Homo sapiens: one gene and its partners. The protein of the gene in region 5 purifies or fractionates together with the protein of the main gene of each other region. This does not show direct contact. Each region holds a gene or a part of one and is shown on either strand. Other genes may lie near its edges.

What was found.
Region 1: the proteins of UCP3 (region 5) and RBM47 purify together in Homo sapiens (affinity purification with mass spectrometry, with the first as the bait; one large-scale study listed by BioGRID). This does not show direct contact.
Region 2: the proteins of UCP3 (region 5) and RC3H2 purify together in Homo sapiens (affinity purification with mass spectrometry, with the first as the bait; one large-scale study listed by BioGRID). This does not show direct contact.
Region 3: the proteins of UCP3 (region 5) and ZC3H7A purify together in Homo sapiens (affinity purification with mass spectrometry, with the first as the bait; one large-scale study listed by BioGRID). This does not show direct contact.
Region 4: the proteins of UCP3 (region 5) and MEX3A purify together in Homo sapiens (affinity purification with mass spectrometry, with the first as the bait; one large-scale study listed by BioGRID). This does not show direct contact.

Annotation. Positions count from the first base shown.
Region 1 is NC_000004.12:40,437,432-40,441,545, forward strand, and holds part of RBM47 (RNA-binding protein 47), read right to left. Parts: intron 1,494-4,114; 5' UTR 1,463-1,493; coding exon 340-1,462; intron 1-339. UniProt on the Homo sapiens protein: Single-stranded RNA-binding protein that functions in a variety of RNA processes, including alternative splicing, RNA stabilization, and RNA editing. Functions as an enzyme-substrate adapter for the cytidine deaminase APOBEC1.
Region 2 is NC_000009.12:122,894,969-122,899,082, forward strand, and holds part of RC3H2 (roquin-2), read right to left. Parts: intron 2,609-4,114; 5' UTR 2,542-2,608; coding exon 2,311-2,541; intron 1-2,310. UniProt on the Homo sapiens protein: Post-transcriptional repressor of mRNAs containing a conserved stem loop motif, called constitutive decay element (CDE), which is often located in the 3'-UTR, as in HMGXB3, ICOS, IER3, NFKBID, NFKBIZ, PPP1R10, TNF and in many more mRNAs.
Region 3 is NC_000016.10:11,755,533-11,759,646, forward strand, and holds part of ZC3H7A (zinc finger CCCH domain-containing protein 7A), read right to left. Parts: intron 3,008-4,114; coding exon 2,899-3,007; intron 839-2,898; coding exon 705-838; intron 1-704. UniProt on the Homo sapiens protein: May be a specific regulator of miRNA biogenesis. Binds to microRNAs MIR7-1, MIR16-2 and MIR29A hairpins recognizing the 3'-ATA(A/T)-5' motif in the apical loop.
Region 4 is NC_000001.11:156,072,466-156,075,965, forward strand, and holds part of MEX3A (RNA-binding protein MEX3A), read right to left. Parts: 3' UTR 1-3,500. UniProt on the Homo sapiens protein: RNA binding protein, may be involved in post-transcriptional regulatory mechanisms.
Region 5 is NC_000011.10:74,006,286-74,010,934, forward strand, and holds the start of UCP3 (putative mitochondrial transporter UCP3), read right to left. Parts: upstream 2,801-4,649; 5' UTR 2,693-2,800; exon of another isoform or gene 853-2,692; 5' UTR 758-852; coding exon 632-757; intron 95-631; coding exon 1-94. UniProt on the Homo sapiens protein: Putative transmembrane transporter that plays a role in mitochondrial metabolism via an as yet unclear mechanism.

The DNA of each region.
Region 1 (4,114 bases), on a different chromosome or scaffold from region 5:
TTAAGATTTAATATCACAAGCAGGTTTTAACGTAAGCACCAAGAGAATGGTGGACTAGCCCCTAACCCGGTGGACCTCGGCAAGGAAGAATTCCAGCACTTGCATATTCCTGTGATTTTACCGCTCACCCCAGAACGATCTGTATTTCTATCAGTGCTGCATAAGTGACGGCCTTCGGTGCCAGGAAAGAATTAGACCCAGAATGCAAACCCAAAACGGGGGTGGGAGGGCCTTCAGCACCTACCAGCTCAGCAAATGCCAGCCACGGTATCCCTGGTGCCCCCTGCCTAGGAGGCAACGTTCTTGGGGGCCCCACCCAGGAGAAGAGCCCCCACTAACCTTTCACAAAGTAGTCCCTGTTGGGCCCAATGAGCGCGTTGTAGGGGTAGCCGTAGTAGGCCAGTGTGTAGGGGTCGCAGGAGTACACGTAGCTGGGCTGCTGCGCTGCCTCAGCCGCGCCGCCGCCCCTGGCTGCCTTCTGGTAGCGCGAGTACTGCTCCTTGTCCACGGGCTTGGCCAGCGTGACCTCCAGGCACGAGCCCTCCAGCTCAGTGCCGTTGAGGTTGTTCATGGCATGCACGGCATCCTCGCGGCTGGTGAAGTGCACGAAGGCGTAGTCGCGGATCTTCTTGACGCGCTCCACGCAGCCGGGGTTGAACTGGCCGAAGCTCTTCTTGATGGTGTCCTCGGTGGTCTCGATCATGAGGTTGCGCACGTAGAGGATCTTCACGGTCTCCATCACGTCCTCGTCCACGTCGATCTCAGGTTCGGCCCAGTCCACGGCGATCTGGTGGCCCCACAGCTGGATGCGGCCAGGCATGAGCTTGCGGCGAGCCATGGCAGCCGCGCGGTGGCTCTCGTACTCCACGAAGGCGAAGCCGCGGTTCTTCATCTTGTCGGCCGCGCTGGCGTAGACGATCACGTCCAGCACGCCCTCGGTGACCTTGGCAATCTCCTCCAGGATTTCCTCGCGCTTCTTCATCTTGGGGATCCCGCCGATGAAGAGGCGGCAGTTGTCCACGCTGCAGCACACGCCGAGCAGGCGGCCCGGGCGGATCTCGTAGTTGTTGAGCTCACGCACTGCGCGCTTGGCCTCGTGCTTGTGGCAGTACATGACGAAGGCGTAGCCGCGGTTCTTGCCGTCAAAGTCCATCATGAGGCGCAGCTCGTAGATGCGGCCCACGGCCTCGAACACGGGCACCAGCTCGTCCTCGTACACGTCGCGCGGGATCTTGCCCACGAAGACCTCGCAGCCACGCTGCGGGTGCGGGCCCTCCCAGCCGGGCGGTGGGCCGCCGTACTTGCGCTGCCCGTTCTCTTGCACCATGCTGTAGCCCGTGCGCTCCATCAGCGCCAGCAGTGCTGCCTCGTTGGGCGCGCCCGCCACGCCCTCGGGCACCTTGGCGGAGGACCCGGCGGCCGAGTCACTGCTCATGGCTGCGGTGGAATCCTCTGCGGTCATAATGTCAAAGGCATCCACAGCTGGCGGAAACCTGGGGAAGCAGAAAGAAGCGTGAGTGGGGAACCGCTGGATCTTGCCTCTTTTGGGTTGTGTTTCGCAGCCTTGCAAGTATGCATTAATAGGCCACGGGGAAGGGGAGGTGGTTTAAATGAGAAATAGGATGGAGGCGTTCTGGAAATGCAGCAGCCCTACATTTGTCTAAAATAGTCAAGTTGTCTTGCAGCAAAAACCAGAAGTGAGTTAGGAGAGAAAAAAAAAAATCAGAATGAGCAAGTACTTCCATTTCATCAGTACCCCGACAGCTTTGAAGTTTTGCGAAGCTGCTCTCATTTTTGGTAAAAACCTCACGTTCTTTTGCTTCATTCCTGCACCGTTAACTCCACCTGATTTCCTTGTTATATGGAATTTGACAAACTCCATGTATTTCTTTGGTGAACACAGCTTTCTTCTTTTCTTTTTTAAGGGAGTCTTTTTAATTGTAGGAATGGAAATACAGTGAAGATTTTAAATTATTAAAGAAAACTTTTAGGAGCTGTCATTGTATAGAGAGAGCTGTGTATTAAAGCTTTTTACAAGGAAGAAATGAAATGTGCACATTGCCACGGGCTTGGTCCAGGAACTGTAATAAGAGCTAATCTGATTTTGATGGTGGCATTCAGGTAAAATTCTTGGTGTGAAGCATTCAAAGATTTGGAATCAGTCCTTGAAGAGCTAGACTGACTTCAAGCTGGGGGACTGGGAAGCAGCATCTACCTGGTAAACCACACTATTGTTTTCAGAGAACTGTCACCTGCATTCTCTTAATTTTCTTAACCTCTGTATATGGTACATGGTATTATCCTCAGTCCCAATTTGGTCATGGGGAAATAGGCTTAGGTTGAGTAAACTGCCCCATTTCACACAGCAAGTGTCAGCTTGTAGGCAGACTTGATTCCAAGTTTTCTGGCTCCAGATTCCCTGTTTTTTCTTCCAAACCAATGCTGGGCAATCGAATTTTCTATGATGCTAGAAAAGCTGTCACTTGCCACATGTGGCTACTGAGCACTTGGAATGGGGCTAGTGTGACTGAGGAGCTGGATTTTAAATTTTAATTAAACAGCCACGTATCACAGTGCAGGTCTGAACTGTGCCGCCTTCACTTATATGGCCAAGGGCTCTGTGGAAGTGATTCTAAATTATGCAATAAGATTATTACGATGAGCTGCAGACTATACTTCTGTAATGAAAGGCTCCAATTCGCCTTTTAAAAAATGAAATCTATTTCATTTTTTGGACTATAAAAGTATTCAGTTAAATTTATAGAAAGTTAAGAAAAGTACATAAGAAATTATTCCTAATTTTCCTACCCAATGATAGCACAATGAAACTTTCTCATCTGTTTTCTAGATGTTTTCTTGAGGAGGTGGGAGGGGGAAGCCTGGCTTCCGCCTAATTTACATGGTGCTACTTTATGTTATAAGCATTCCTCTGTATTCTTAAAAATCTTTGTAAAAACATCATTTTTAATGGCCATATAAGGTTTCATCAATTAATTAGAACCCGGAGTATCATTCATTTTTTAAAATTTAGGACTAGGAGATGTATACAAGAATATTAAGGGAAATTTCAAGGATAATAAAAATGAATTTGATCATTGAAGGAAAAAATAAAACTATAATGAAACAAAATAAATCTGAGCTATTTATTTGCCAGATGGCCAAAATAGTCCTTTTGTGGTTAATTTGCTCTAATATCAAGCGGCAGTACAGTTTAGCAGGTAAGTATGTGGCTTCTGGAGCCAGACTGCATATGTTTGTTTGTGAATCTCAGCTCTAATACTTGCTAGTGTTAGCTGCTCCATGCCTCACCTCAGTTTCCCTACCTATAAAATCAGAATGATAATAATAGTATTAACCTCATTAAGTTTAGAGGAGTGAGTTAATACATACACAGCATTTTGAATGGTGCCTAGAATATTATAAATGCTCAAGAAATGTCAGTTATTAATTTCATCCAAACTTTTGAGTAAAATCTTAGACCAATTCTTTCAATTTTAGAGTAATTCTTAAGATAAACATCTTCAGTTCTTTAAAAATATCTGTTACACGTGGCTTCTATTCTTATTATTTTTTTCCTCTTCAAGTGCTTGGAAGCTGGTTTGACGTCTCCAGTTATCATGAAATTTTTTTGTAGTATACTTGGAAAATTAGTTTCTGTAGTTTCAAGTTGAAAAACATTTTTTTTTCTTTTTTTAAAAATAGAGATGGAGGGCCAGGCAGAGTGGCTTGTGCCTGTAATCCCAGCTCTTAGGGAGGCAGAGGTGGGAGGATTACTTGAGCCCAGGAGTTTGAAACCTGCCTGGGCAATATAGAAAGACCTCGTTCTCCACAAAAAAAGGAACCAAAAAAAAAAAGATCCCAATTAAAATAGAGATAGAGTCTCACTATGTTACCCCAGCTAGTCTCAAACTCCTGGGCTCAAGTAATCCTCCTGCCTCAGCCTCCCAAAGTGCTAGGATTACAGGCATGAGCCACCACACCCAACCAAGAAATTTCAACATTAAATCTGAACATGAAGACCTTTCCCTTCTTCCAAATGGAAGATAAGGATATATTTTTAAGAGGACTATTTGCATAAACACCCATGTAGTTACAATCTGTGACCTAGGCAGGA
Region 2 (4,114 bases), on a different chromosome or scaffold from region 5:
CTTGGTATATCTGAGAACTGGCTAAGAAGCCAGTGTAGCTTAAGCAGAATAAGAACAGTAGTAAAAGAGATAACAGAATTCACACTGTAAAGACCTGTAGGCAATTTAAGAACCAACTGAGATAACATTTACAAATGATATTAACACAATACCTGTTGACCTATAGCAGATGCTAAATAAATGGTAGCTAGGTTTTTTTTTTTTTTTTGAGACAGGGTCTCACTCCCATCACCCAGGCTGGAGTGCAGTGGCACGATCTTGGCTCTCTGCAGCCTCGACCTCCTGGGCTCAAGTGAACCTCCCATCTCACCATCTCAGCCTCCCAAGTAGGTGGGACTACAGTCACACACCACCATGCCTGACTAATTTTTTTATTTTTTGTAGAGATGGGGTTTCGCCATGTTGTCCAGGCTAGTCTCGAACTCCTGGCCTCAAGCAGCCTGCCCACTTCAGCCTCCCAAAGTGCTGAGATTACAGGTGTAAGCCACTGTGTCTGGTGGTAGCTAGTATTCTTACAAAAAGTCTATGATATTTTATCAAATCTAAAATGTTGTTTGCAAGAGGCAACATTTTATACTCCATTAACAAAAATATACTGGCAATTAAATTAAGATACACTATCAATTGTAGATGCACCTTGATTTCATAGTGTGTAACTTGATTATAAACACTGAAAAGAGATTTTGTGCTTTACAAGGAGGACTTCAAATATCAAGATACTAAAGGAATGAATGAAGTATTTTGGTTTATTGGATTTTCTATTAAATCAGAAAAATAATTCCTTTCTGGCTTTAATATGTAGCACATGATGTACAGAATTTCATCTCTTCCTAACTTGTAAAATGGGGATAATAACTACCTGAAAACCTATGGTAAGAATTAGTAATAATAAATGCTGAATACTTTCTGTCAAACCTAATGCAAAGTAGACCCTCATTAAATATGTTATTTCAAATCTAGAGTCTTGCTTTGATTCAATAAAATAATTACAAACATGAATTCTATAGCACATGTTCTTTTTTTTTTCCCCCCTAATGTTCAACTAAAGCATCACATAGCTCAGAGGTGTCTTTTGGCTTCCGTGGGCCATACTGGAAGAATTGTCTTGGGCCACACATAAGATACACTAACACTAACAATAGCTGATGAGTTAAAAAAAAAAAAAAAAAACTTTACGAATTTGTGTTGGGCTGCATTCAAAGCTGTCCTGGGCTGCATGTGGCCTGAAAGCCAGACAAGCTTGATACAACACATGTTCAGAAGAAATCATGGAGAATTTATTACTGACACATTGGTTTTTGGTTTTCCATATATACATCCCTACATAGACCTTATTGTTTCATTTACACTATTATATAAAAAGTCAAGTGAAGTAAAAAAAAGTAACAACAACAACAAAAAAACCTGTTTCTGGTCAAAGCTTTGATTACATTTCTTTTCATATCACCTGGTGAATAAATATATATGCTTATATAAAAATATTTCTTATCCACCAATATCACTTATATACATAAATTTTAGCCACAGAATTGAATATGTAACTATAATGTAATCTAAGGTTTTGTATAAGGATATGACATTATCTAAAGAAAATCTTTCGCAGAATACAATCATGAAAATCAGGTACATTGAAATTTATTTTTTACACCTTAATGATCACTAAACATACTATATACCTATTACTGAATAAAGTTCAATAACTATTTCATGTAACAAATTATTAGGTTGCTGCAAAAGTAATTGCAGTTTTTGCCATTAAAGCCACATAAGATGGCTGGGTGCAGTGGCTCACACCTGTAGTCCTAGCACCCTGGGAGGCTGAGGTGGGCGGATCACCTGACGTCAGGAGCTCCAGACCAGCCTGGCCAACATAGTGAAACCCCGTCTCTACTAAAAATACAAAAAAAATTAGCTGGGTATGGTGATGTGGGCCTATAGTCCCAGCTACTTGGGAGGCTGAAGCAGGAGAATCGCTTGAACCCAGGAGGTGGAGGTTGCAGTGAGCCCAGATCACGCCACTGCACACCAGCCTGGGTGACAGAGTGAGACTCTGTCTAAAAAAAAAAAAAAAAAAAAAAAAAAGGCCACATAAGATACACTAACACTAACGATAGCTGATGAGCTAAAAACATAAACATAAATCACAAAAAAAATCTCACAATGTTTTAAGGAAGTTTATGAATTTGTGTTGGGCCGCATTCAAAGATGTCCTGGGCCACATGTAGCCTGCAGGCTGGACAAGCCGTTAAAATAATGGCAAAAATAGTGATTATTTTTGCACCAACCTATAGTAAAATCTTGAATGCTTACCTGGGCTCCAACTAACTGGAGAAGTGCGAAGTTGACAGGAAGTACATCAATATCTGTGTTGATGGCAGTCTGGTCAAAAGGACAAGCTTTTCGATGAAGTTTATTCAAGCAGGTCTTGCAAACAGTGTGTGAACAACCTAAACTGATGGGTTTGTGCACATTCTCATCAAATTCATTATAGCAGATTGGACAGGACAGAAATTCTGTCCATTGAGCTGCCTGCACAGGCATTGTGGAAGCTGGATGCTCGGGTTAGCAGTCTAGCAGATCATTATTTTGCTGTGTAGTGTTTTGTAAGCTAGAAATGGACAAAAGTATGAATTAACCACATATTCATCATTCACCTTTGAAGAGTTAATTGCTTAAGTCAACTATTACAGCTTCAGACCTAAAATACTTCTAAATAATTTTATAACCTTTGGATGTCTTTTTTAAAAAACCTATTTGCTGAATTAATTACATTTCTGAAATTCTGCCTGGAAACAATACCTTAATAGTGTTCCTTTCAACTAAACTGTATTTATATTGGTTGCTCACATAATAAACATCAAAGCTTTTATGTATTTTTCTCAACGACCACATCAAACAAGCAAATTAACTTTCCATATTCCATTTTTAGGAACACAAATTACTTTGGACTGCTGGGCGGTTTTTTTGTTTTGTTGTTTAAAAAAGTGTTTCCCTTGGATAACCAGTACCCCAAAACATAATAAAGTATGGCCAGGAGTTAATGAACTTTGGAAACTACTGATCCAAACAATATTGTAGAGACTCAAGTGTGAAGAAAACAGCTTTGCCACCTGAAAGAGGAAATCTCTGACAAGACTTGGCTAGGAAGCAAAATGAGGCACTGAAAATCAACATATAAGAGAAGACTGTGATGACTGAGAGATGATTAAGAGAGCTGTTTGTTCATAAATGAAAGACTAATGCTGACCACAACATACAGTGCCAAAGTAAAACAAAAAAATTGTCTTAAATATCTTGTATTGTTCAATACAATACTTCTGATAAAACTACATTATTTAGCGATTGATATATATAACCAAAAACTGTAAAGTCCAATGAGGAAGACACAGAAGAATAAAACATTATTCTAAAAAGTTATATATGCATGATTAAAAACTGAAAAGGCACATAGAAAAAAACAGTGAGAGAATTTTTCTTATTTCTGAGATCAAAATGTTCCTGCTGGGCGTGGTGGCTCACACCTATAATCCCAGCACTTTGAGAGGCCGAGGTGGGAGGATCACCTGAGGTCAGGAGCTTGAGAACAGCCTGACCAACATGGATAAACCCTGTCTCTACTAAAAATACAAAATTAGCCAGACGTGGTGGCACATGCCTGTAATTCCAGCTACTAGGGAGGCTGAGGCAGGAGAATCACTTGAATGTGGAAGGCGGAGATTGCAGTGAGCCGAGATCACGTCATCGCACTCCAGCCTGGACAAAAAGAGCGAAACTTAATCTCAAAAAAAAAAAAAAAAGTTCCATAAGTTTAGTAAAGTAAAAGATTTAGTAGCAAAACGATACTAATTTGAACACACTAAACTTCCCAGAATTTCTTTATCTTCCAATTCAAGACTTAACATAAGTCTGACAAAAGCTCTCTGGTGAACAAGAAATCTAGGTATTTAGGGCAATCAAACAACTAATACTTTATTTCACAGGAATGTTTACCAACCCAAATATATTAGTTCCACAGAAATTAGATGTTTAAAAATGTAGTCACATTCAAAGAGAAAAAATATATAACAGAAAGTATTCTCAATTATGCCAACATACAAAAAAATTCTATTAGCCT
Region 3 (4,114 bases), on a different chromosome or scaffold from region 5:
ATGTAAGGTCCAGCGGGGTAGACAGCCCACATTCCTGAGCCACCTGCTGGGGCCTCCCACTAGGGAAGAGTCACAGACTCCTCATACTTCACTAATCCATCAGGACAACCCCACTCGGAGACATAAATAATCTACCCAGGGTGCCAGGCAAGTAAGGAGAGAAACCAGGACTTGGACTTATGATTCTCTGGCTCCAAAGTCAGAAGGATTGAAGAAAGGATTTTTTCACATGAGGAGACTTAAGCTAGTGGCAGGAAACCACTAGAGAGAGAAGATGAAGACACAGAACAGAGAAGGGCAGGCAGTGAGTGACGGAGCCGGGTTTTGGAGAAGATGGGAAAGAAAAGAAAGGCCGGGCATGGTGGCTCACGCTTGTAATCCCAGCACTTTGGGAGGCCGAGGCAGGCAAATCACGAGGTCAGGAGTTCGAGACCATCCTGGCCAACATGGTGAAACTCCATCTCTACTAAAAATACAAAAATTAGCTGGGCGTGGTGGCGCGAGCCTATAATCCCAGCTACTTGGGAGGCTGAGGCAAGAGAATTGCTTGAACCAGGGAGGCGGAGGTTGCAGTGAGCTGAAATCACACCACTGCACTCCAGCCTGGTGACACAACGAGACTCCATCTCAAAAAAAAGAAAAGGGAAAAGAAAGGCTCCATCAATGGCTCGGCAAAGAGAGGGTAAATGACGCACGGTACTCACTGTAACTTCAGCATAATCTGTTGGCATGTGAATTTGTTTTCCATTTTCCTTGTTTGACTGACTGGCTATGTCTTCACTTTTTTCATTTTTTTGACTCTTGAGCCATAGTTCGTAAAATTGCTCCATATCTTGTACTAAAGAAAAATGAATTACTTTCAGCAGCAGCAACTAAACTCCATTTAAATACATGCAACTATGTGCATATTTTGTAGCAGTCAGCATACAGTTCAAAAGAAACTCAAGGGGGCTGAAGGAGACTATTATATTAGACATGGAGAGATCACCCAGTTCAAGCAGCAGGTAAACTCTCACGCATAAGAACTACTTTCAGGACTGTTAGATGGCAAATATTAGTTCTCAGGATTAATTAACCCCTCCCTGCATTTGCACGACACTTTGGGGATGTTTAAAACTCAGAAACCATTATAAACAGTATTGTCACAAAAGCCTCACCACTGCCTCTGTCGCCCTACGTTCCACACTCAGTGTCAGAGCTAGAACCACACAAGGCTACTTACGTGGCTTGGGGGACTTGGAGCTGATACACTCCTCACTGCTTACTGAGAAAGATGAGAAACATACTACTACTGGACCAAGATTCTGACCCTGATGGGAGTCCATCAGTCAAGCCACAGTCCCAGAGGGCGGATATGCTGGGCTGCAACTGACAAGACAACCATGACCAAGTCCTGGGCAGTGGCTGCCAGTTGCTTCCTATGGTAAGAACAGGTGTATTCTGCATTATTGCCAAGTGCTAAAGCTGAGGTTTCTCAGCCTCCATGTGGTTGACATTCTGGCTAGAGAATTCTTTGCTGGGGGTATGCCCTGTGCATTACAGGATGGTGAGTAGCATCCCTGGCCTCTGCCCACTAGATGCCTGAGCAACTTCTGCCAGTCATGACAATGAAAATATCTCCAGACATTGCCAAATGTCCACAGGGAAGGGGAGTGGCAAAATTTGTTCCCAGCCGGGCACGGTGGCTCACGCCTGTAATCCCAGCACTTTGGGAGGCTGAGGCGGGTGGATCACAAGGTCAGGAGATCGAGACCATCCTGGCTAACACGGTGAAACCCCGGCTCTACTAAAAATACAAAAAATTAGCCGGGTGTGGTGGCAGGCGCCTGTAGTCCCAGCTACTCGGGAAGCTGAGGCAGGAGAATGGTGTGAACCCGGGAGGCGGAGCTTGCAGTGACCCGAGATCACGCCACTGCACTCCAGCCTGGGTGACAAAGCGAGACTCTGTCTCAAAAAAAAAAAAAAAAAAAAAAAAAAAAATTTGTTCCCAGTTGAGAACCACTGTGCTAAAAACTCTGGTAATGAGGACCTGGTTAAAACTTGGCTTTGTTGTCTGCCTAATGGTTTCTAACAATGTATCATCAGGCAAAGATTAGAGATAAACTAGAAATGCTTCTTCCTTAAGACCAGTGGTGGCAGGAGTCATTGCAAAAGCCTGGTGCGCAAGGGCATCTTCAGTCAGGCCGGACTACATAGCCTCACTCCCAGCAAGACAGCTAGAGGGAATCCCGTCCACACACCACTGACGATCTATGTGGTTGAAACATGGCAGGCAACAGTCAAATCTGGTTGGTTCTTATAATCCAGAGACTGCAGTCAGTATACCTTTCATCAGTTTACTTAAGATTAAAGAATAATGATCCTTGTAGTAAAACATTTTATGGTCAAAAGTGAAAGGCTGTCTGCGGCTCCTCTCAAAGGCTCCCACAATAAACTTGGAATTTGACCAAAATAAACATTCTTTCCTTGGACCTCTGATTCTGAGCCTGTTTGATTAGTAATGCCTCCCTGAAGAAACTGCCAATTCTAACCTGGTTAATTCAGAGGGCAAACTATTTCCAATACGAGCAGATGATCTGATTTAAACAGTCAAGGGAGTACTGAACTTCCCCAGGCCATTTTTTAGGAATACATCTATTACATGTAAGGATGCATGCAGACCTATATATTTATATCCAAATCTGACCTAACCAAACACAGATCAGACGCCACATTCTACCCCACTGAGGCTGTGCCCACATTTTCCAGGCATCATCGCCAACAGAGCTACTGATGAAACGGGGCAACCGTTTAGAATGCAAACTGCTTTCTGTGTTCACAGGAAGCTGGCATATTTATAGAGAGGAAAAGAACTTTCAGGCAAGCTAGCTCAAGGACACAGCTAAAAGATTAACTTACTCCCATTCTCCTTCATGTAAGTCCAAACTTCTCTTTCCTCAGGACTATGAGCAAAGGAACAGTTTCCAACATATTGACATTTTTTCCCAGAAGCAATATGGTTGCACAGCTGTATAAAAAAATAGGAATATGATTAAGACAAAGTACACCTAGTAAAACGGCCTAATTTTTACATTTAAGCAAAAGAAGCATTATTATCCATGCTAATACTTAGTAATCAAATTCTAAAGTAAGATTAATTTGACTCTACTCAAATTAACTATATGCTCTAAATATATGAAATGATATTAAGGTTTCTATCTCAAAATTTTTCAAAAGAAAATGTCCAAAACAGAGTAAAGCATGGAACATTTTCTTACAAGAAAATGTCTACAAACTCACTTACTCAGAACATTTAATCTCCACAATGAACATCCCTGGCCCTCTCAGTCTGACAGCTCCTGTTTCCCTGCCCAACACTAATGATTCCTCCACATCAGCACTTGAAAGCAGTAAAGAAACTGCAGGCTACTCCAAAGGGTACTGAACAGTGCCCAAAACATTTCAGAAATTTAACTTACTTATAACCAGTACTGGAAACTAACCTCGGCCATAATTCACTACATATGCATTATCAGAAGACAATTATCACACTAGCCATACCATGGAGTTACACAGCTTTCAAATAATACCTCTTCAGGTTATTTGTATTTTTATTTAACAAAGTAAATACAGTGATACTGGTAGGAAAATAAAGTGATCGTGATCAGCAGAACGCAGACTTCCCTAAGAATTATGAGCCAGGAACCAAGAAAACCTCCATCACGGAGAATGCATTCTTGAATACCATCAACCTACTTGTCTGTATGAGGTATAAATCCTAGTACAACTAATTATTAGCTTATCTTAGTTTGTGCTTCAACGGCAGCTGGCCCTACATTATTTAGCTTACGTGGCATTAAATGCTTAGCATCTGTCACGTTTTTCAGAGTTTTGGCTAAAACTCGCTCAGCCCCCTTAACACTGTACATTTCCTCCCTTGGACCAATGTCAGTGACCCCACCCTTAAAATCTTCTGCATAAAGTCAGTACTGGATAAAATAGTCATATTCTTTCCCCCGTCAAACCCCAGTAAGTACTTAGTCATATTACTAGGGAAACATTTACCATAGTCTTTCAAAGCTCAATGATAAGGAGCAGGAAGAAAAGCAGGTAAAGGAGAAGGCCAGGCACTGTG
Region 4 (3,500 bases), on a different chromosome or scaffold from region 5:
CAGGGAGGGGGATGGCAGAGTCATTGGTGTAATGAAGCAGGCTCCTCCTGCCAAAAGGAGAGCCAAGGGGCCCCTCCAACCCCTTGGATAGGAGGGGAAGGCCCAGTGATTGCAAGCTGGGGTTGGTAGAAGGCAAGTGCTTTAAAAATGTTGATTTCTCACACGCAGAAGCCAAGCCCTCCAGTTTTGTGTGGGGAGGGCAATGTGTTCCCAGGCCAGGGTACAGTAGATGACCCCTACCTGAACACATATAGATGGAGGTGAACTGGAGCAGAGGGTCAGGGTTAGGGTCACCCAAAGTCCCTGTGCCTTTCCCCAGCCTCTGTGCCCATGGGGATGCCTTTCTCCCAGGCCTTCAAGGACAGTGTTTCCACTCCACTCCGTGGGAAGTCCTTCTTGGAATCTAACTTTTATGAGACAAGAAAGCACTTTGCAAGTAGGTGAAGAACGAGTCAGCTTTAAAGAACAATTACTGAGATTGTTACTGCTACTGCTGCCATGGAGGTCAAAGCTAAGTGGAAAGCTGGATGGGAACAGGGGTAGGGGACTGATCGCCTCAGTGCTCTTGAAGCTCTGAAGGTGAGAAGCGTGTGTGCATGTGTGTCTGTTTGTGGAATGACTTCCCAGGCTCTTAAATCAATCTGTAGAGAAGTGGACCGAGGTCACACTTCAAGAAGGACTTCCTCAGTTAGGCCTGGGGGAAGCAGGCATGGGAGGGTTTGAGCTGGGAGCCCCAGGAGGGGACATACCACATTGGAGTATGGGCTGCCCAGGTACTAGGGGTGCAGGTGAATGTGCTTGGCCTCCTCTGCTGCCCCCAACCCAGCCCCTGTCTTATTGAGATGATCAGTGTGCATCCTTTCCAAGACCCTGGGAAATGAACCCCTCATTTCTTTGTCCTACAATTTAAAAATCCAAGGATTCTCAGAATCAACCCCAGCAGACTGGAAGCTCCCAATCTTAAACTAGCAACCTGATCCAACCCTGGTATCTGAAGATTGGGCAACTCAGGGTGGACTCAGCCACTTCCCTCCTCTATTTATCTTTTCCTTACAACTTTTATACATTCTACTGGACCCAGGGGCCCTCAATGCTACTAAACTTTAAGCTATCTTAATATTGTCTACTAAGTAACTAGTAATTGTTTCTTTCTCTCTCTAGGATTATATGAAATAAATTTGAATTATTATTATTAATAATTATTATTTTGTAGTATTCTTTTCTTTTAAACCCCTCGGTTTCTCTTTTTCTTCTCTTTCTCTCTTGTTTTTGGTTAAAAAAAAATCTAGATCTCTTAAATCTCACACATCTCTGAGGGTTCCTATAGGCCTGCTAGGCCTTAATTCTGGATTCCCCCTCCTCACTTGCCCCTGCGACAGGGCAGGGGAAAGTGGTGGGGGACACCCCAGGATCCTCAGTCCTTAGTCCTACAGCTTCTTCCTTTCTTGTTAATCCCTTTCTTTGTTTGGCTCTGCCGGCTCCCCTGAGGGGGAGGGGGAGAGGGGAGGAGGAGTCCATGGAGTGAAATCCAATCTACTGGAAGGGTCCCAGGAGGGACCGGGTTCCCCCAGCTCCTCTCTCCACCATTCACCCCCGGGATGCTCCCCCAAGAAAAGCAAATGACATTCCTCCCCAAAAAAAAAGTGGGGGAAAAAAGCAACGTAAACCCAAACATATATTAAAAACACTTTTTTTTTTTAAGATTTAACTCTGAATACAAATGTATTTTTTTCTTCTTCTCTCCCTACATATATTCTAAACCTTCTAAAGTTTTTTTATTTTTTTAAGGATCACTTTATCATAAAATAAAATATCCTTTTCATATAATAAATTACCTAATAAAAAGTCTTTTTTTTTCATATTAGCCCAGGTTCTTTGCTACATTTATATGGTAATAAACGCCTTTATTAAAATAGAATATTAAATTATAAAGAACTGCTTTTTTTTTTTTTTTTTGCTATTTTTGTTTTCTCTCCTCTGTGTTGGTCGCCTGTCTCGCTCCCTCTCATGCTCTCTTTCTCTCCTCTATTTTGTCTCTCACTATTCGTGTTTTGTGTTTGTTTCTAGGTTTGGCTCAATTGGTAAGGGTGGGATTGAATTTGCTGAGCCCCCTAGTGTAACAGTCTTCTGCCTTTGTGGGTAAAGAGTGGAGAGGGGGAGGGGGACGACAGACAGACATCCCTTCTTCCCACCCCCCTCCCCACCTGCCCCCCGGCAACCGAGGGTGCCCATTTGGTTTGGTTTCTATTGTACAGACATCTCAGGATGGCTCACATAGGCGGGAAGGAGGGAAGTCGTCACAGGGCAGTTTTCTTGGCTGTGACCTCCTTCCCCACCCCTCCCTGGCTGGTGTTCTGGAGGGGAAGGCTGTGGAGAGGTGTTAATTCTCGACAGGAGGAAGGAGAGGAGGAAATCCCCTCTGCACCTCCACCTGCTCCATCCAGGAAGAATGGGACTCTGGAGCTTTAAGTGCTCGGGTGATCACTCAGAACAGTCCCACCCCACTATTTACAAGGATCTCCTGGGACTCCCATCCCTCCATCCTCTCTTGGCCCGGCCAGCGGAACCAGGAGGGTGGAGAGCTGGTGGCAGCCCCAAATGAGCAGGAGGGAAGCAGCAAAGGGGGTGCAAGGCCTGTAACAATATGTGATTCTCAGAATAGGCCCTGCTGCCCACCTCCCCCCAGTCCTGCTTTGCCCCAGGCTGACCCCTCTTTGAAGACCTGGCTTCTCCTCAACCACATCAGGTGGGACACAGACTCCATGATTTGCATGGAGGATTCAAGCTAATAAGGATTCAAGCTAATAAGGATTCAATAAAGGTTCAGGTCAGGTTGAGAGGGGTGCAGGGAGTCGGGCACTGCATGGGAGGAGCAGCTCTTCCCTCCACCAGTCTCTCCTCCTGCCTCACGCCCTTTCCTGCTCCTTTAAATAGCAGACACACTACTCTGGCGCCCCCACTTCCACAACCAGAAAATCCAGCCCAAGAACTACTCCCTAAATATAATGCCCATAGTGATGAAGGTGGGGGTTTGACCCTTTACCCCAGTATTAGTCCCCTCCTCACATTTTCACTGAGAATGGGGATACATTCCATCAATAATTTGAGATGTTTCTTTGGAGGAGTGGGGGAGAGGGCCTCCAGATGCCTGAAGAGGAATGGAGGGACCATCCAAATATTCCTCCCCCTACTTCTCCCCAGAAGGATGGTGTCCCCAAAGCTGGGCTGGTAGGGGCAGGGGCAGGGGGAAGGGAAGAAAGACAAAGACAAGGAACAAGACAGAGCTGGGAGTGACAGCCACCAAAAGAAAGCAAAGCAAAGAGCTGGAGGGAAAGGAAAGAGTTGAGGAAAGGGAAGATCCCAAAGGAAGGGAAGATAGGCGGAGAGAGTGAAGGGAAACACTGCAGGGGACAGGGGCAGAGAGGAGGACTCCTCTCCAGATTCCTCTAGCCCAGCTTTGTGGGGACAGATGGCTTCTGAGCCTTTCAGCCACAGAAACG
Region 5 (4,649 bases):
GACCCTCAGTCCGCACCATGGTCAGGATGGTGCCCAGCACGCCACGGTACTGCACGAGCCGGGCCGTCTGGACCGCCTGGTTCTCCCCCTGGATCTGAGGGACAATAGCAGGGGGTGAGGACTCAGATGGGAAGGCAAGAAGGGGCTGCGTGCACAGGAACCCTGCTGGGGCTGGGCCTGCCTGGGCTGGGCCTGAGAACAACCATGCTGGTCACAGTAGAAATCACTGGTGTCTGCGCAGCATTTTACCATTCACAAAGCAGTATTATACACATGGCTTGGTGTTTGATCCTCAGAGTAAATCAGAGGGACAGATTGTTTTTCCCATTTTATAAGTGCTTCGTGGCTTGCCCAAGGTCACACAGTTAATTCCTTACTTTTACCTCACACTGCATGCTTTACAAAGTAGGGCCTAGCCCATAAAGGGCCCTGTCACATCATGCAAAGAATTTAGATTTTTTTGTCCTGGTGGATGGTGATGGGAGGAGGCAAGGAAGGGTCCTAAGCAGTGGAGTGAGAGTCTTTGTCAGGGTTCTGAGGAAGGGCATGTGGGCACACGTCATGGGGGATATGGGAGAGAACTAGCCCCTCCTTCCATGTGATCAATGACCCTTGGCCAAAGGGCACCTACCTGCAGGCGGACCTTGGCTGTGTCCAGTGGAAAGGTAACGAGGTCAGCAAAACAGGCTGCTGTGCCTGCCCCCAGGAACTTCACAGCCATGGTGGGAGGCACGTCTGAAGGCTTCAGTCCAACCATAGTCCTGGAAGGCTCTGCCCAGTCCCTTTAGGGCCGAGAGGAGGTCCAAGGAGAGAGGCTGCTCCACAGCCCTGGGCTTCAGTGCAGCGGTGGGGCTGCAGGAGACAGGCCAGAGAAGGCTGATGGAGTGATGTCTGGCCTGGCTCCCAGGAACTCTTCCTTACCCAGGAGGGGCTTTAGAAAGGGAGAAGCCTGGGTGGTGCCATACTTAAGCTGCATGAATTTGGCCTATAAAAACAGGTCACGTTCCTATCCCTTGAATTTTGCAATCCTCCTCCTGACCCTCTCCCTCCCCTCCTTACCAGGGGTAGGCAGAGCTGATAGTGGTACCTGCACTGTATACATGAGGAAACCGAGGCTCAGGCATCTGTTCTCCCCAATATCAAACTGCCTCCTTTTTTTTTTTGAGACAGGGTCTCACTCTGTTACCTGGGCTGGAGTGCAGTGGTGCAATCCAGGCTCACTGCAGCCTTGACCTCTTGGACTCAAGTGACCCTCCCACCTTCAGCCTCCCGAGTAGCTGGGACTACAGGTGTGCATCACCATACCCAGCTAATTTTTTATTTTTTGTAGAGATGGGGGTCTCTCTATGTTGCCTATTCTGGTCTTGAACTCTTGGCCTCAGCGTGATCACTTGACAAGAGGGGCAGTTCTTAGCCACTCATGGAAAATGGAATGGATGGACACAGACTCAGGTCAAAAGCCCACCTTGGGGCTCTAGAACTTTCAGTAGTCAAGCTGCGGGAGGAGGGAAAGCCACAGTGGTGGGCACAGGTAGGAGGTGCCTTGAGGCCAGCACTCCCCAATCTTCTTCCCAATTCACTCCAGACTCTCCTAGACCCCTAGCAGCCGGCAGCCTTTTGCCACTGGCCAGTGGAGGAAGAAGTCAAAAGTGGAACCCTCATTACTGTAGCTCTGCTGGGGCTCCTGAGGGATGGGATGTTCTAGTCAGCATGGTCCATTAATGTTTGCTGGTTGCTTCTTGCACCAGATACCGTGCTGAGGGCTTTACAGACACTGACTGATTTGATCCCTTCATAAGGCTACAAGTAGTTGCTATTATTATTCTCATTTCGTAAACCAGGGACCTGAGGCTTCCAGGGCTTTTGCTAGTCATACAGCTGAAGTGCTGGAGCTGAGATTGGTGCCCACGTTTGTCTGACATCTGAAGCTGCGCCTGTTTCACTGCCCAGAGAGTCTCAGACTTCAGGGAGAGCCAAGGATCCCTTGAGCTGCTTGTTTACAGAGCAGATTCTCAGCTCTCAGCCCCAGAGATCCTGATTTAGGTCTGGGGTGGGGCCTAGGAATCTGCATTAGGAAAACTCCCTGTGGTAGCTCTGAAGCAGGGGAAGAGGACCCCATTTTGAGACATCCTACCCAACACCAGTTGCCTCCCCAACTCCAACCCACCCTCCCGGCAAAGCCTTCACAGCAGCCCACTGAAGAAGCCGTCTGGGCAGAGACCATGGGCTCTGTAAAGCTCCCAGCAAATGACCTGGACCACGCCTCAGGTCAGAAGTGCCCCTGTCATCCCTACTCAGGAAGAGGGCCCCAGGGTCCTCATGGAAAGAGAGGGATTTATGCTCTGGAGGAATCGCAGAGATTCTGGGGCAGGCAAAGAAGAAAGCCACTTCCTGTCTATGGGGATTTGCAAAATCCCACCAGAGGCAGCCAGCAAGGCAAAGGGGGTGTGAGTCTTGAGTGAGTGACACGGGTGTTGGGTTCAAGCCCCAGCCCTGCCACAGTACCCTCATCAAGGCCACAGCTCCCTTTTCATAAGGTGGCGGCTGGACTGAATCTCTATCAGGTCTGACAAGCTGCAGCTAGTGAGCCCTGACTGCTCGGGGCTGCTCTCTGAAAGCCTCCAATGAAAGGGAGAACAAGGAGAAGGGAGAGGGAGAGGGGAAGGGATGAGGGAGGAGAAAGGGGTCTTACCTGTGAGTCCTGCCACGGCAGGGGCAGCACAGGGGCTCCCTAGGGCTCCATCCCAGGAGGTGGCAGCAGGGATTGGATGGCCCCTCCTTGTCATTCACTGTTGTCTCTGCTGCTTCTGGCTTGGCACTGGTCTTATACACACGGGCTGACCTGAAACCTTATCCTAGAGAAGTTGGTTGACAGCCTGATCACTTGACAAGAGGCTGGCTGGTGAGGGCAGTGAGGTGAGAGGGGAGGTGAGTGAGTTCCAGATCTGGTTCAGTCCTCTTGACTTGGGGTGCTTTAATATAGCTCCTTTAAGCTGTGGACGCTTCCTTGGTGACAAGGGTGTATGGGGGGGTGGACCTGCTGCCACTTTTGAGTCCAAAGGTCAAGGCCTCCCACGATAGGCTGGGCACAGCTCTCCCAGGTCTCTTAATAATAATGTCATTTCTTTGTGCCTACTATGTGCTAAATATTTTACATACATTACTACTATTTTCCACAATCCTATGAGATAGGTACTATTAGGATTCTATTTTTTTTACTTTTTTTTTTTGTAATTTAAAATTTTTTAGTAGAGACGAGGTCTTGCTGTGTTCCCCAGGCTGGTCTTGAACTCCTGGGCTTAAGTGATCCTCCTGCCTCAGTCTGGCAAAGTGCTGGGATTATAGGTGTGAGCCACTGCACCCGACCTAATTTTTTTTTTTTAAATTACAGATTTATTGATATAGAATTCACATACCGTACAATTCATCTGTTTCAAGTGCACAATTCAAATGGTTTTTAGTATATTCTGAGTGGCACAACCATCAACACAATCTATTTTAGAACATTTTCATCACCCTCTCACCCTGGAAAAACTCCATACACATTGGTAGTCACCTCCCTTCCCCCGCTCCCCAGCCTCAGGCAACCACTAATCAATCTACTTTCTGTCTCTATAAATTTGCCTGTTCTGAACACTTCCTAGAAATGGAATCATCCAATATGTGCTTGTTTGTGACTGGCTTCTTTCACTTAGTATAGTAATGCTTTCAAAATTCATCCATGTTGGAGCCTGTATCAGTATTTCGTTTCTTTTTAGTGCTGGGGATCCTAAAATCTTACCACTTATTTTACTGAGGAGGAAATGGAATCTCAGGGAAGTCATGTAGCCAGCACGTGGCGGGGCCTGACTCCAGCCTGTAAACTGTAAGGCATTTTGGGCTTATCTACTGTGACCACCATTCTCTCCAACATGACACTTGGAGGCTTTAGCATGGACACTGCTGGAGCCAAGGGAGCTGGGACCTGGTGGAAGGGTGCCCCACAGAAGCTACTGGAGGCTCCATCTGTGGGCACTCAGAGTAAGGGCTGGGCACAGCTGAATCGGGCCCCAGGTGATGGGGGAAGGGGAGAAGAAGAAGAGAAGGGAGGGGAGGAGTGAGAAGCAGAAGGGAGGGAAGGAAAGGGAGTTAACTGGGTAGGGCAGAGGAGGAGTAGGCAGAAGTCTTTTCTGGACTGGGGCACAGAGCCAGCGTCACAGGGCAGGTGGTCAGAAGCATGGATGTTCAAGTGCAAAGCTTGGGCTGTACCTGTCCTCTTCCTTGGACCAGGCCCTGACCTTAATGTCAGCAGAATAAGCAGCTGCATTAGTGTTAAGAGGGAAGTGGCTGTCAGGGCTGCTGAGATTAGGAAGGCTCAGGAAGTAGGTTCTGAGCTCCATCTGTAATTGCTAGTCTAGAGGTGATGCAGTAAATTGCAGGGAGTCTGTGGGGGAAGAATAGAGTAGAAGCCCAAACCAGGAGGCAGCAGGCTCTGGAGAAACCTAGTGGGAGGGAGGGCCAGGCTCTCTTTAGCTTGGGAGCTTGAGGGCAGGGCCAGGTCTGCCTGCTTTGGCTCCATGTCCTGAGGCCAGCCCATGCTAGAAGTCCGAAGGCTGCCTGCTCTGGGTTGGGATGCAACCAGCCTAGGGATCAGAAACACCTATTCACAG